Regions from separate parts of the Homo sapiens genome. Here regions 1 and 3 are each linked to region 2. Evidence: fine-mapped expression QTL. A gene starts in region 2. Each other region holds a variant in brackets. All regions are shown on one strand. Distances are between the middles of the regions.

The links. PIP is the estimated chance that this variant, and not a neighbour inherited with it, causes the effect.
Region 1: its variant is the best candidate, but not a certain one, in a credible set for the expression of NAA40 in whole blood (TOPMed, PIP 0.79).
Region 3: its variant is the best candidate, but not a certain one, in a credible set for the expression of NAA40 in whole blood (TOPMed, PIP 0.60).

The regions. Positions count from the first base shown.
Region 1 is chr11:63,895,470-63,899,533 of GRCh38, reverse strand. It overlaps MARK2 (microtubule affinity regulating kinase 2), which reads right to left. Exons shown (of 19, transcript NM_001039469.3): 3 at 3,901-3,954; 4 at 1,254-1,302; 5 at 861-926; 6 at 701-771; 7 at 426-482. Among named protein-coding and RNA genes, the nearest start is that of RCOR2, 20 kb to the left of the region's middle. The variant C/A (reference allele first, on the strand shown) is at 2,124.
Region 2 is chr11:63,936,866-63,940,931 of GRCh38, reverse strand. NAA40 (N-alpha-acetyltransferase 40, NatD catalytic subunit) reads right to left here and starts at 1,930. Exons shown (of 8, transcript NM_024771.4): 1 at 1,830-1,930. The coding sequence starts at 1,835. RefSeq lists silencers at 1,824-2,009, 1,939-2,018, 2,279-2,328 and enhancers at 2,049-2,188, 2,427-2,927.
Region 3 is chr11:63,956,959-63,961,024 of GRCh38, reverse strand. NAA40 (N-alpha-acetyltransferase 40, NatD catalytic subunit) reads right to left here. Exons shown (of 8, transcript NM_024771.4): 8 at 3,706-4,066. Among named protein-coding and RNA genes, the nearest start is that of COX8A, 16 kb to the left of the region's middle. The variant T/A (reference allele first, on the strand shown) is at 1,888.

The DNA of each region.
Region 1 (4,064 bases), 41 kb after region 2:
ATCTTGGTGATGGAGATGGTATGTGTGTGCCTGCCTGCAAAGCAGCTGGGATACAGCTGTGGAACTTTCAGCACTCTTCCCTGGGTCAGCTACCAGGTTGCCTGAAAGACTGAGAAAGCCTGGAGTGTGCCTGCCTTGCTTGGCAGCACTAAAAGGTGATGTGCCAAGAGGTGAAATGGCAGAGGGCCCCTGCTCAAGGGCTAGAATGGAACCCGAGGTCCAGCCACAAGGCCTCTATCAGAGGCAGCCCTAGGGGCTTTCTGGTCATCTCAAAAAAAAAAAAAGAAAGAAAGAAAGAAAAAAAGAAAGGCTGGAGTTTCCTGGAACACTCAGGGCCTGATGGTTATTGATGGTTTTATCATGGAGAACCAAGAGGCAACAACCTGGCTCCCACTCAAAGGCACAAGGAGAAGTGCATGCCTTACCTTTAAGTCTCTATGGACAATAAACTTCTGGTGACAGTACTGCACAGCAGACACTATCTGAAAGGAAGGAAGAAGGGTTAACCCAGGGGTGCCTGAGGGTGGGCCACAGGGGCTGACAGAGCAGTGACCCTGTGACTTAGTGCTAACCTGCCACACGGATAAGCAGAGCCCAAAGTACCCTCCAAGGGCCACTTACAGACAGGCAGCTTATCCTTACATGTCAAACCCCAAAAGCAGAGGTCAGGCCTAGCTCCTATGGAGGGAGTCACACCTACCTGGCGGAATTTGGCTCGAGCCTCTTTTTCTTTCATCCTGCCATGAGCCACTAGGTAATCAAATACCTCTCCTGTAAGAGACCAGGCAGGGATCTCAGTCAGAGCTGGCTGGAGGTGGAAGAAGTGGGGGCACAACAGGAAGAGGCAGTTCCACACCTACCGCCACTAGCGTACTCCATGACAAGGTAGAGCGTTTTCTCAGTCTCAATCACTTCAAATAATTTAACTACAAGAGAAAAGGCCAAGCCTTAAGTCAAGAAGCAACAGGGGCCACATACTGCTCTCCAACATGTCCAGGAGCATCCTAGGAACGAAAGTCTCCCCTCCTTTCATGATCCCCCACTCCCAAGAACAAGTTCCTCTCATGCCAGCCAAACTGCTAAAGACAGCCCAGTGTGCCAGAAGGGGAGATGGATTTTGAGCTGAGCTTCCCCAGGGGTATCCTTGAAGACTGCAGACTCCAGAAGGCAGTGCACCTCGGGGAGAAGATGACATGCTGGAAAGCAGTGCCTTGCTGTTGGGGAAGAAGAAAGAAATAACAACTTGTGCTCACCTATGTTGGGATGATTCAAAACCTTCATTATTCTTACTTCGCGGAATAGCTGGAAGATAAAATACCAGGGGTCATGCCTGCCCAACTTGCTCCCATCAGGTCTCTCCAAACAGTCCCTGCCAGGATTTGTTTTTCCCAAAAAACCAAAACCGGGCAGGGAAAAGAAAATAGGGTGGTTGTCTAGCTCATGCACGGCCTTCCCTGTGGCTGGGAAGTTGGGGAAGCTGGAGGAGGGCTGGCTGTGGGGACGTGCTACCCGGGATGGCATCAGGATGAGCCAGCCATGCCCTCTGCTGCGTCTACCAAATCCAGCCCCAAAACAGCAGGCAGGTTTTGGCTGGGTGCCTCTACTGGAGGGAGTGTGAGCCCGTGTGCGTGAATATTCAGAATCCGAGCTGCTGCCTTGGTTCAGTGACAGTACACACCCCAGCTTGGTCTGTGTAAAGGGGTGGTAGAGCACCAGAGGGGGACCCCATCATTTTCTGATTTACAGTAGTCAGAGGGCTCTGTTCTAGGGGATAGGCCTTTCCTTCCTGGGCCTCTAGGGTGGTGACAGAAGAAGCCACTCCTATATATAGCTGATGCCAATTTTAATCAAATCCACCTCCACACACTCACGCTCTCTTTGTGAAACAAAACCAGGGGCTCCAAACCATGTATTTCCATAAAGAAAGATGACAGAAATGAACTCCTTCCCCTCTGCGGGGGCCAGAGAACTGGAGGTGGGGCTTTTTGTAATTTCAGGCCTCATCACTTGCACAAAGAACAGAACTAGTTTTTGTTGTTGTTTTTGTTGGGGGTAGGGGAAGCCCTAATTCAAGATATGGTTTATGGAATAAAGTGAATACATTTGTTTCCCCTTTAATGATG[C/A]CCCAGAGCTTTCCTAAGCTAGAAAGGAAAAGAAGAAAAAGGCTTTCCAATCCTCAGGAACCCAATGCTGACCTTACCCTTTATTAGGGCCTAGGTTTTTCTTACTTTTTTCCCTGGTCCAACAGATATTTTGGATGGAGAGGCAAAAAGCCTGGATACCACCCTCTGGGGCAGTAATGGGGAGCAGCTCTGAAATAGGGCCAGAGGCAGCTGCCAGGGCTTCTTCCCCTGAGGCTGCTCACCTGGCATGGAAGTGACATTCTTCTGGGAGAACTTGGGGTTTTCTGGGCTTGTCTAGACCCCTGAGGGGGCTAGCTTCTTCAATGTTCATTTTTCAGGGATCATTGCTGAGATCACATTTTTGGCCAGAATCAGACTGGCTTTAGTAACAAAGAGTCTCAAAAGGTTTTGAAAATGGCTCTATTTGTCTGGTGTTGGTGCCTTCCAGAGAGTCAGGAAGAATTAGGGAGAAAACCAAGAAGAATTAGGGAGAAAAACAAGGTCAGGAATAAGATGGCTTGGTGGACTGGCGATTATTACGATGGCAGGCTAGACTGCTCCCAAGGCCAAATGGCCTACCCCACGCTGACTTCTTCTGTGGGGCTGGAGCCAGGATGTCATAAGCAGCCCTTTTTCCCTTCCTCCTGGAAAGCTTCAAGCAGAGACACCCTGATGATGACAACAATGTTTCTACTGAACTGAAGAACCCTTGAAGGGATCCCAGGGGTAACAATAAATAGGAAACACCTTGGTTCTGGCTATTTGCATGTCCGGAGAACAACTCATCCACTCTAATTCCATGAGCATCGCCCTCAACAACAATCCTCAGCCCTTACTCCTAAGGTTCCCAGTATCACTATCTGACTCTGTTAGCACGAATCATGCCTTCTCCTAACTCAACTGCCACAATATGCTTATGGAGAAAATATCTGATTTGCCACAAGATGAACAGAACTAGGTTTTGTTCAGAAAATTTGAGCTGGAGCTCATTCTCTAAAAGGTAGCTGGCACAGAACCCACCGGCAGGTTCCCTGCTTCCTCTTATTCTTGTATTTCTAAAGCCACTCCCCTGTATCATTCCAGATCTTGAAGTAGCTGCACGTGTTTCTAGTAGTGGCTACAAACATGTGTTTTTGCATAGGGCTGGCCACAAGCCAGAAGATAACAAGATGCAGGAAGTAGGTCAGACAGGTAGGCCAAGTGGCTGGGAATGAACAGAAAGACTTCACAAGAGCCAGTGCCTATGGCCAGGAAGCCCACTCAGGAGGAGTCACCACAGATGATCCAACCAAAGCCCCGAAGGTAGCAGAGCCATGGGAGGGAATGGTTGGGGGACGGTGAGCGAAATGGCCAGAAAATTTAAACTAGGAATTCAAGAGAAGGTCTAAATGGGGTCAGTAGATCATTGACCCCAGAAGAGAGATTTAGAAAGGGACAGGTGGGCTGGGGGCAGTGGTTCACGCCTATAATCCTAGCACTTTGGGAGGCCGAGGCGAGCGGATCACTTGAGGTCAGGAGTTCGAGACCAGCCTGGCTACCATGGTGAAACCCCATCTCTACTAAAAATACAAAACTTAGCCAGGTGTGGTGGCGGGTGCCTATAATCCCAGCTACTCGGGAGGCTGAGGCGGGAGAATCGCTTGAAACCAAAAGGCGGAGGTTGCAGTGAGCCGAGATCACACCATTGCACTCCAGCCTGGGCGACAAGAGTGAGGCTCTGACTCAAAAAAAAAAAAAAAAAAAAAAAAAAAAGGGACAGGAGGTGCCATGTGCTTACTTTCTGGAGGCTGGAGGAGTTCAGTTGAGTCTTGTCAATGATCTTCACAGCTACCTGAGGATGAGACAAAAAGGCCCCAAATCACTTCTCTGACCAGCGAAACCCAGGATTCCAATCTACTTCCTCCTTTATATTTCTTACTCCTTTTCATCCCACAGCTTTTT
Region 2 (4,066 bases):
CTAAGGGACACAGGTTTCATTTAGTTTCAACAATGGCTGTGTCTAGGACCTTTCACCAAAATTTAGGTTAAATATGCCTAAGGTCTCTAGACTTGGTTTTCTACATATGAAGTACGTAATACCCAAAACTATTTGTTAAAACACGATGACTGTTTTGACACGGATTAGACAACTATTTTTGTCTAATAAGTTGATTTGTTCAGTCGATAAATAGTGGAGTGACGGGAAAAAAAAAAACTAGGTTAACAACAGTAGGGACAAACCCAATGGGTTAAAAATAGCACAAATCCATTTTAGATCAGTAAAGTTAAGGCTGAGGATACAGACAAAAATAACAGCCACTACTTAGGAGACACCTCCTTAGCAATCTACATCCATTATCTCACTTAATCTTCACTACTACCCTAAGGGGGAGGTATTAGCATCCCAATTACAGAGGTGAGGAAATTCAAACACATAAAGGCCAACTCACTGGCACACTATTATACCACCAGCAGCGAAGACGGGGCTGGAAGTGAGGTACCTCGGGCTCCAAAGTCAGGGTTCCCTTAAGGTGATGGAAATTCCATGTAAATACTAATATAGGCCTGTGTGGTGGCTCACGCCTGTAATCCCAGCACTTTGGGAGGCCTAGGCGGGTGAATCACGAGGTCAGGAGTTCGAGACCAGCCTGGCCAACGTGGTGAAACCCTGTCTCTACTAAAAATACAAAAATGAGCCGGGCATAGTAGCGGGCGCCTGTAATCCCAGCTGCTGGGGAGGCTGAGGCAGGAGAACCGCTTGAACCCAGAAGAAGGAGGATGCAGTGAGCCGAGATCGCGCCATTGCACTCCAGCTTCGGCGACAAGAGCAAAACTCCATATCAAAAAAAAAAAAAAAAAAAAAAAAAAAGAATACAGCCAATACTAGGAAAAGCGTTATCTTTTTAGGAGGGTGACTGATACTGCTGTAATTGAGACTTAGTAAGGTGAACGCACAGAAACTTGCAAATAACTTCTGCCCTACCCTATATCCCGGGAAAGTAAACTAAAATGCACCTCCAGGCTGCCGGCACGGAACAAGTGGTCAATATCCATCCGCGGCTGGGCCGCCGCCCCCGCCTCCCCGCATCTTCCCCGCACACCTGCACAGCCCTCCCCTTGCAAAAAACACCTGCACTACCAAAACCCCTAACAACCCAAGCGGTCGTAAGAACCATTTCATTGCAACCAGGAGGCGTCGAAGGCAGGAGTCTATGGGAAAGGAAGGCTGTGTTTATCAGGAGCAGCAGGAACCTGGTGGAGAGGTTTCGAAAGAGTGTAGGGGAACCGGCTTCGCTGAGACTCGAGTAACGGGAAGGGCAGTGGACTGGGATTCGGGAGGCCCAAGGTGGGGTCTGACGCCCCCGACAATATGACCTTGGCTAGGCGCCTTCTTTCCTCTGGGCCTCAATTCCCTCCAAGCCAGGGTTGACCTCGGATGTGAAAAGCGACGAAGCTGGTGACAGCCAGGTGATGAGTGACCCTGGGGGAGCGGGAAGCTAACCCCAGGGTCCCCGCGGGGGACGGTGGTGGGGAGGCCAGTAACGGGTCCGCGAAGCAGGAAGGGGCGGGCGTGACGCTGGGGGCGCCGAGGGGGTGGGGCCCCGGACCAGGGGCTCTCCAGAGGATTCCCGGGCTAGGCCTAGCGTAGGGACCCTTAGAATGGGGGAGTCGGGTCATGTGGGGGTCAGGGGTCACGTGAGGCTGGAGGGGGTCGGGGTCACGTGAGAGGGGGGTTTAAGAACAAAGGGGGCGAGGGTAGCGAGGAGCGCCCCTGGACCTCCCATCTCCTCTCTCTGCCTCACTCACCCCCATAGCGGCGGCGACAACGCTCAGCTTCTTCTTCACACACTTGCCGGCAGGGAGGCGGCAACGGCGGTGGCTGCAACAGCGGCGGCAGCAGAGCGGACGGCCCTGCAACGCGCATGCGCCTCGCAGCTTCCCCCCCCCCCCCCGCCCAACCGCGCGCCCTCGTACCGCGCCGGCGCAGAACCGGCGCAGGGCAGCGGTGAGCCGGCGCGCAGGTGGAGCGCCCGCTAGGCTGGCCGAGGGTCTCCGACCAGGAGGAGGCGGGAGCGCGGAGGAGCGTCGCGCCGGGAATGACGTGCGGCCAGAGCCCGCCCCCTCGCAGGGCTGCGTCTGTAACTATGGCAACGGCGGCGCCAGGCCTGGCTGCTCACCCAGGCCGTGAGTCGCGCGCCGCTGGGGGCCGGGTGGTTGGCAGCACCTCCCCTGCGGCCAGCGACTCCTTGGCCCCGCGCGTAGCAGCCGGCGGCACAGCCACCTTCCCAGGCGGCCAATCGCGTCTCGACCTCTAAAGTACCTGCCCCTCCAGAGCCCTAGCGCGCGTAGCGGAAGTCTTTGGAAACTTTCCCACCTTCCAGATCTTGACTCTTGAAATTCCTTTTCTAACCAGAGTCCTGTTACTCATTCATTCGTCTTCTAACCATTCATTCCCCCTCATTCATTCACGTTCTCAATAAAAATTAACTCGCATCTACGCGGTGCTGAGCCCAGGGGGCACAGAGAGGAGCGAGGTGCCATCTCAGCGCCACACCTCAGGGTTTAGAGGGGAGACGGGCACGTAAGCACTGTTTAGGAGAGAGTGGACAGTGCTGTTAGCGTGAACACCAGGCATCCCGGAAAGTTTTAATTTCAACCCATCCCCAGCACACCGGAGTGACCCGCACGTGACCCGAATCCAAACCGCCGGGGGCGCTTCCGCAGTGTGCACACCTCTGCCAACCTCCCCCAGAATCTCCAGGGGTGGAGCCAGAGTCTTCACTTCCTAGTGCTCCCCAGGTAGGGAGCGAAAATTAGTGAAATGCTTCAAGACGAAAATTAGTGAAATGCTGCCCAACACTTAAGCTTCATGGACTTTTTCAGGTTTTGCTCATTATTCCATCTTTTTGTTTTTTTAAGAGACAGGGTCTCGCGGTCGCCCAGGCTGGAGTGCAGTGGTGCAATCACAGCTCACTGCAGCCTCGACCTCCTGGGCTCAAGCGATCCTCCCGCCTCAGCCTCCTGAGTAGCTGGGACTACAGGTGTGCACTACCATACGCAGCTCAATTTTTATTTATTTTTTGTTGAGATGGGGTCTCACTGTGTTACACAGACTGGTCCCAAACTCCTGGGCCCAAGCGATCCTCCCACTTTGGCCTCCCAAAGTGCTAGGATTACAGGCGTCAGCCACTGTGCTTAGCCTCATTATTCCAACTTTAGTGCTCAGTACAGTGGTGGCCTCAACAACATTTATCCAGTGCCTACTGTATGCTAGGCACTGTTCCAAGCAGCAAGGAAAACAACAATAAGAAACAGAATAGGCACCACCCTTGTATCCTAGAAGGAGGAGACCGATAATAGATGAAATAAATAGGTAATATACATAGTTAGTTAAATGATACAGGCTCGGCCGGGCGCGGTGGCTCACGCCTGTAATCCCAGCACTTTGGGAGGTAGAGGCGGGCGGATCACGAGGTCAGGAGATCGAGACCATCCTGGCTAACACAGCGAAACCCCGTCTCTACTAAAAAAATACAAAAAATTAGCCGGGCAGGGTGGCGGGCACCTGTAGTCCCAGCTACTCGGGAGGCTGAGGCAGGAGAATGGCGTGAACCCGGGAGGCGGAGCTTGCAGTGAGCCGAGATTGTGCCACTGCACTCCAGCCTGGGCGACAGAGAGAGTCTCAAAAAAAAAAAAAAATGATACAGGCTCTAGAAGGAAGAAAAAGCAGGGAGAGAGCACAGGGAAGGTCAAGATTTATAGTTGTGGCCTGGCGCAGTGCCTCACACCTGTAATCCCAACACTTTAGGAGGCTGAGATGGGCGGACTGCTTGAGCTCACGACTTTGAGACCAGCCTGGGCAACAGAGTAAGATCCTGTCTCTGCAAAAAAATTTAAAAATAAAAAAAAATTAGCCAGGCGTGGTGGCGTGTACTTGTGGTCCCAGCTACTCTGGAGGCTGAGGTTAGAGGATTGCTTGAGCCCGGGAGGTGAAGGTTGCAGTGAGCCGATAGCGCCACTGAACTCCAGCCTGGGTAACAGAG
Region 3 (4,066 bases), 20 kb before region 2:
GAGCCATCCTGTATCAGAGCATGACCCCAGAGAGGTGCAGGGCCTGGCTTTCAACAGCCAAATCAGCCACAGCTGGCTCTCACCCTGCTCCCGATCTCCCAGCTGTGGCCTACCAAGCCCTGCTCTGAGTCAAACAGCCTCCACCCCTTAGGGGGCTCCCAGCCTGGTCCCATTTCTCAGGGCCTCCTCCCTCCAGCACTGGGGTGGCCTGCACTAAGCACCAGCGCCACATGATGTGACCTCAGCCCCAGCCCTGCCAGTCCGTAGGGACTATTAAATGTTCACCTTAATAGAATTAACACTCCACAGCAGGGCCAGGCTTGGGAGCTCACGCCTGTAATCCCAGCACTTTGGGAGGCCGAGGTGGGTGGATCACCTGAGCTCAGGAGTTTGAGACCAGCCTGGCTAACATGGTGAAACCTTCTCTCTACTAAAAATACAAAAATTAGCTGGGTGTGATGGCGTATGCCTGCAGTCTCAGCTACTCAGGAGGCTGAAGTGGGAGGATCACCTGAGCCCAGGAGGTTGAGGCTGCAGTGAGCTGATTGTGCCACTGCACTCCAGCCTGGTGACAGAGATCTTGTCTCAAAAAAACAAACAAACAAAGAAAACAACCCACAGCAGACTCCTAAAGCCCCAATACAGGTTCTAAGGTTCTCTTTGCTCACTTCAGCATAGTAGGAATCCAGGAACGTAGATGGAATCACAGAAACCGACATCCTGTCCAGGGCAGCACTGCATAATACCCTGGCATTGCAGGCCAGAAGCAGGAGACACCACCCTTGTCCCCAGCACCAGGAGTAGCAAGGTGGGGCAGGAGAGGCCTCTGGGGCCCATAGCTCCTGCTCAGGAAGAAGCTGGGCCTCTCACAGTCGCCGTGGGGCAAGGCAGCATAGGGAGGGAAGGGACCTAGTCAGGTACACAGCTGTGGGTGTCCTTGGCTTGCTCCTGTCTTTTCTTTCCCAAGCTGCAGGTTACCTAACTGTGAAACGGGGATAACACCTCCTACGCTGTGTTCAAATCTTGGCTCTGCCATTTACTACTGGGCCCATGAGCAAGTTACTTTTCACTCTCCATTTATCTTTTTGAGAGAGTCTTGCTTTGTCGCCCAGGCTGGAGTGCGGTGGGGCAATCTCGGCTCACTGCAGCCTCTGCTTTCCAAGTAGCTGCGATTACAAGCACACATCACCATACTAAGCTAATTTTTTTTTCTTTTTTTGAGATGGAGTCTCGCTTCTTCGCCCAGGCTGGAGTATCTGGCACAATCTTGGCTCACTGCAACCTCCGCCTCCCGGGTTCAAGCGATTCTCCACCACGTGCCACCACGCCTGGCTAATTTTTGTATTTTTAGTAGAGACGGGTTCACCATGTTGGCCAGGATGGTCTCGATCGCTTCACCTCGTGATCTGCCTGCCTCAGCCTCCCAAAGGGCTGGGATAACAGGTGTGAGCCACTGTGTCCAACCTAATTTTTTGAGACGGAGTCTCACTGTCACCAGGCTGGAGCACAATGGCGTGATCTCGGCTCACTGCAACCTCCGCCTCCCAGGTTCAAGCGATTCTCCTGTCTCAGCCTCCCAAGTAGCTGGGAACACAGGCATGCGCCACCAAGCCCAGCTAATTTTTATGTTTTTAGTAAAGACGGGATTTCACCCTGTTGGCCAGGATGGTCTCGATCTCCTGACCTCGTGATCCACCCGCCTCGGCCTCCCAAAGTGCTGGGATTACAGGAGTGAGCCACCGCGCCCAGCCTAATTTTTTTATTTTTAGTAGAGACAGGGCTTCACCATGTTGCCCAGGTTGGTCTCGAACTTCTGGCCTCAAGTGATCTGCCTGCCTAGGCCTCCCAAAGTGCTGAGATTACAGGCGTAAGACACAATGACTGCAA[T/A]TTTTTTTTTTTTTTTTAAGAACAGGGTCTTGTTTGCTCTGTCACTCAGGCTGGAGTGCAGTGGCACAATCATAGCTCACTGCAGCCTCAGACTCCTAGGCTCAGGCAATCCTCCCGCCTCAGACTCTCAAGTAGCTGGGATTATAGGTGCCTGCCACCAGGCCCAACTAATCAAAAAATATATTTTTTTAGAGACAGGGTCTCACTATGTTGCCCAGCCTGGTCTCAAACTCCTGGCCTAAAGCAATCCTCCCACCTCAGCTTCCCAAAGTGCTGGGGCTCTAGGCGTGAGCCATGGCGCTGGCAATTTATCCTTAGATTGGGAGTAACACCACCACATTAGTTCACCAGGCTCCACAGCAACACATCCCCTCTCCCCAGACCCCGTCTGTCCTCAGGGGTATAGAACAACCTCTGCTGCACTTGGGGAGGGAGTATTCTAGCCAAAACTAGAAAAGCCTGCCCCCTAGTTTGAACTACCTTCAAAGCTGGCGGCAGAAACCATCTGGTGAGTGGCGTCCCTCCCGCTGGGGACATAGTCCCTTTCAGTCCAGCCCAGGCTCTGGACTGTCTACTGCTCAGCGGTGGTGCCTCTTGCTCCGCCTGCCCACTGAAGCTGTGGCAGCAGCATGGGGCAGACCCAGAAGTCACACCACACCTCACTGAAGCAGCCACTGTGGAGGGCCCAGGCCATTGTGAAGGTGGAGAAGGAGGAGGAATGGGTGCAGACCTCAACTCTCCCTGCACTCAGCCGGCAGGGATGAAGGAATGGCCCCAAGCTCTCCAACTGTGGCCATTCACCCTTCAGCAAGGGGATGGCCATTCCAGGAAGTTTCTGCCTGGGATGAAAACACAGCCTTCAAGGAACAAATAACTTGAGGGGCAGAATTCTGTCACATGGGAAACTGGCCATGTGATTCGCCAGGCAAATTGCTCTCCCTTCCCAAGGGCTGTGCTGCCTTTCTTTGGGCCTCAAAGATAAGACAGCTGCACAAACCACCTGCGGGTGTGCCCCTGCCCACAGGGGAGAGGCCACAACATGCCACAGCTGGGACCCACGGAACAGGTATAACCCTGGCTCCTCTTTCCCCAGATGCTTGCTCTGCCAGGGCACGAACACTCCATGTGGATCAGGGTCTCCTGCTCCCCGTTCCAGCAGATGCAGACCACCAAGCAGAGTACAATGGGGCAGCCCCTCCACTGTCCACAGAAAGTACTGAGCTCCAGCTCCCCCGGGCCAGGGCTGGCAGGAGCCCTGCTTGGGGAACAACCTGCACAGCTCCATCTGTCACACTAGGGGGTCACAGCCTCCACCAGCTCATAACTCTCCTGCCCCAGCAGCCCTGACATGAGCTCCCCTTCCTTGGAGCCTTGTCTTCTGTGAATGGATGGAAGAGGGCAGGAATCTTAAGAGACAAAGAATATTTTGAGTAACCCAATGAAGTCAAAGAGGAAAGAAGCACTCTCGTCTATTCACCTCCCACACATGGGCACTGGAATTTACGTTTGGACACAGATTTCAAATGTCACAAGGCCTGGCTTGGGACTTTCTCTCCAAGATGCAAAGCAGGCGCCCTTCAGAACACCTTTGGCCTCTACTCAGAACTCCTGGGAAGTGGCACAAACACATACATTTGGTCTCTGTTCCCAGCTCTGGCTGCTTGCCCCGGACAGCCTGAGTTTTTTCTCCAGCATGGGGCTATCATAGCTATGCACCTCCTGATGTTCGGGCCCAATGTTGGGACAGGCTCAGGGTCCAGAGCTTCCCAGATCCACGCTGCCCATGGTGCCCCAGCATCAGGAAGCCATCTCAGCAGCTGACCAAAGTGTCTTTTATTTGTGACATACAAATACAACCAATGCAAGAAGAGATCACTTTTTCCCTTTGATTCCAGTGATAACAAGCTGCTAAAGAAAAAAAAAAATATATATATATATATATATATCAAGGAGTTTATCTTCCAAATTTCCTCTTAAAAAAAAATTAAAAAGAACCATTCACATGTCCTATACATACTTGACACCAACAAAAATAACCTGAAATAGGGTGGATATAACTAAAATTTTAAAAATCTTAAAAAAATCTTAACATGCTCCAAACAAACAAACAAAACACAAAAAGCCTGGTAAAAAAGGCCTGCTATGTTTCTCTTTTTTTTTTTTTTGAGATGGAGTCTCA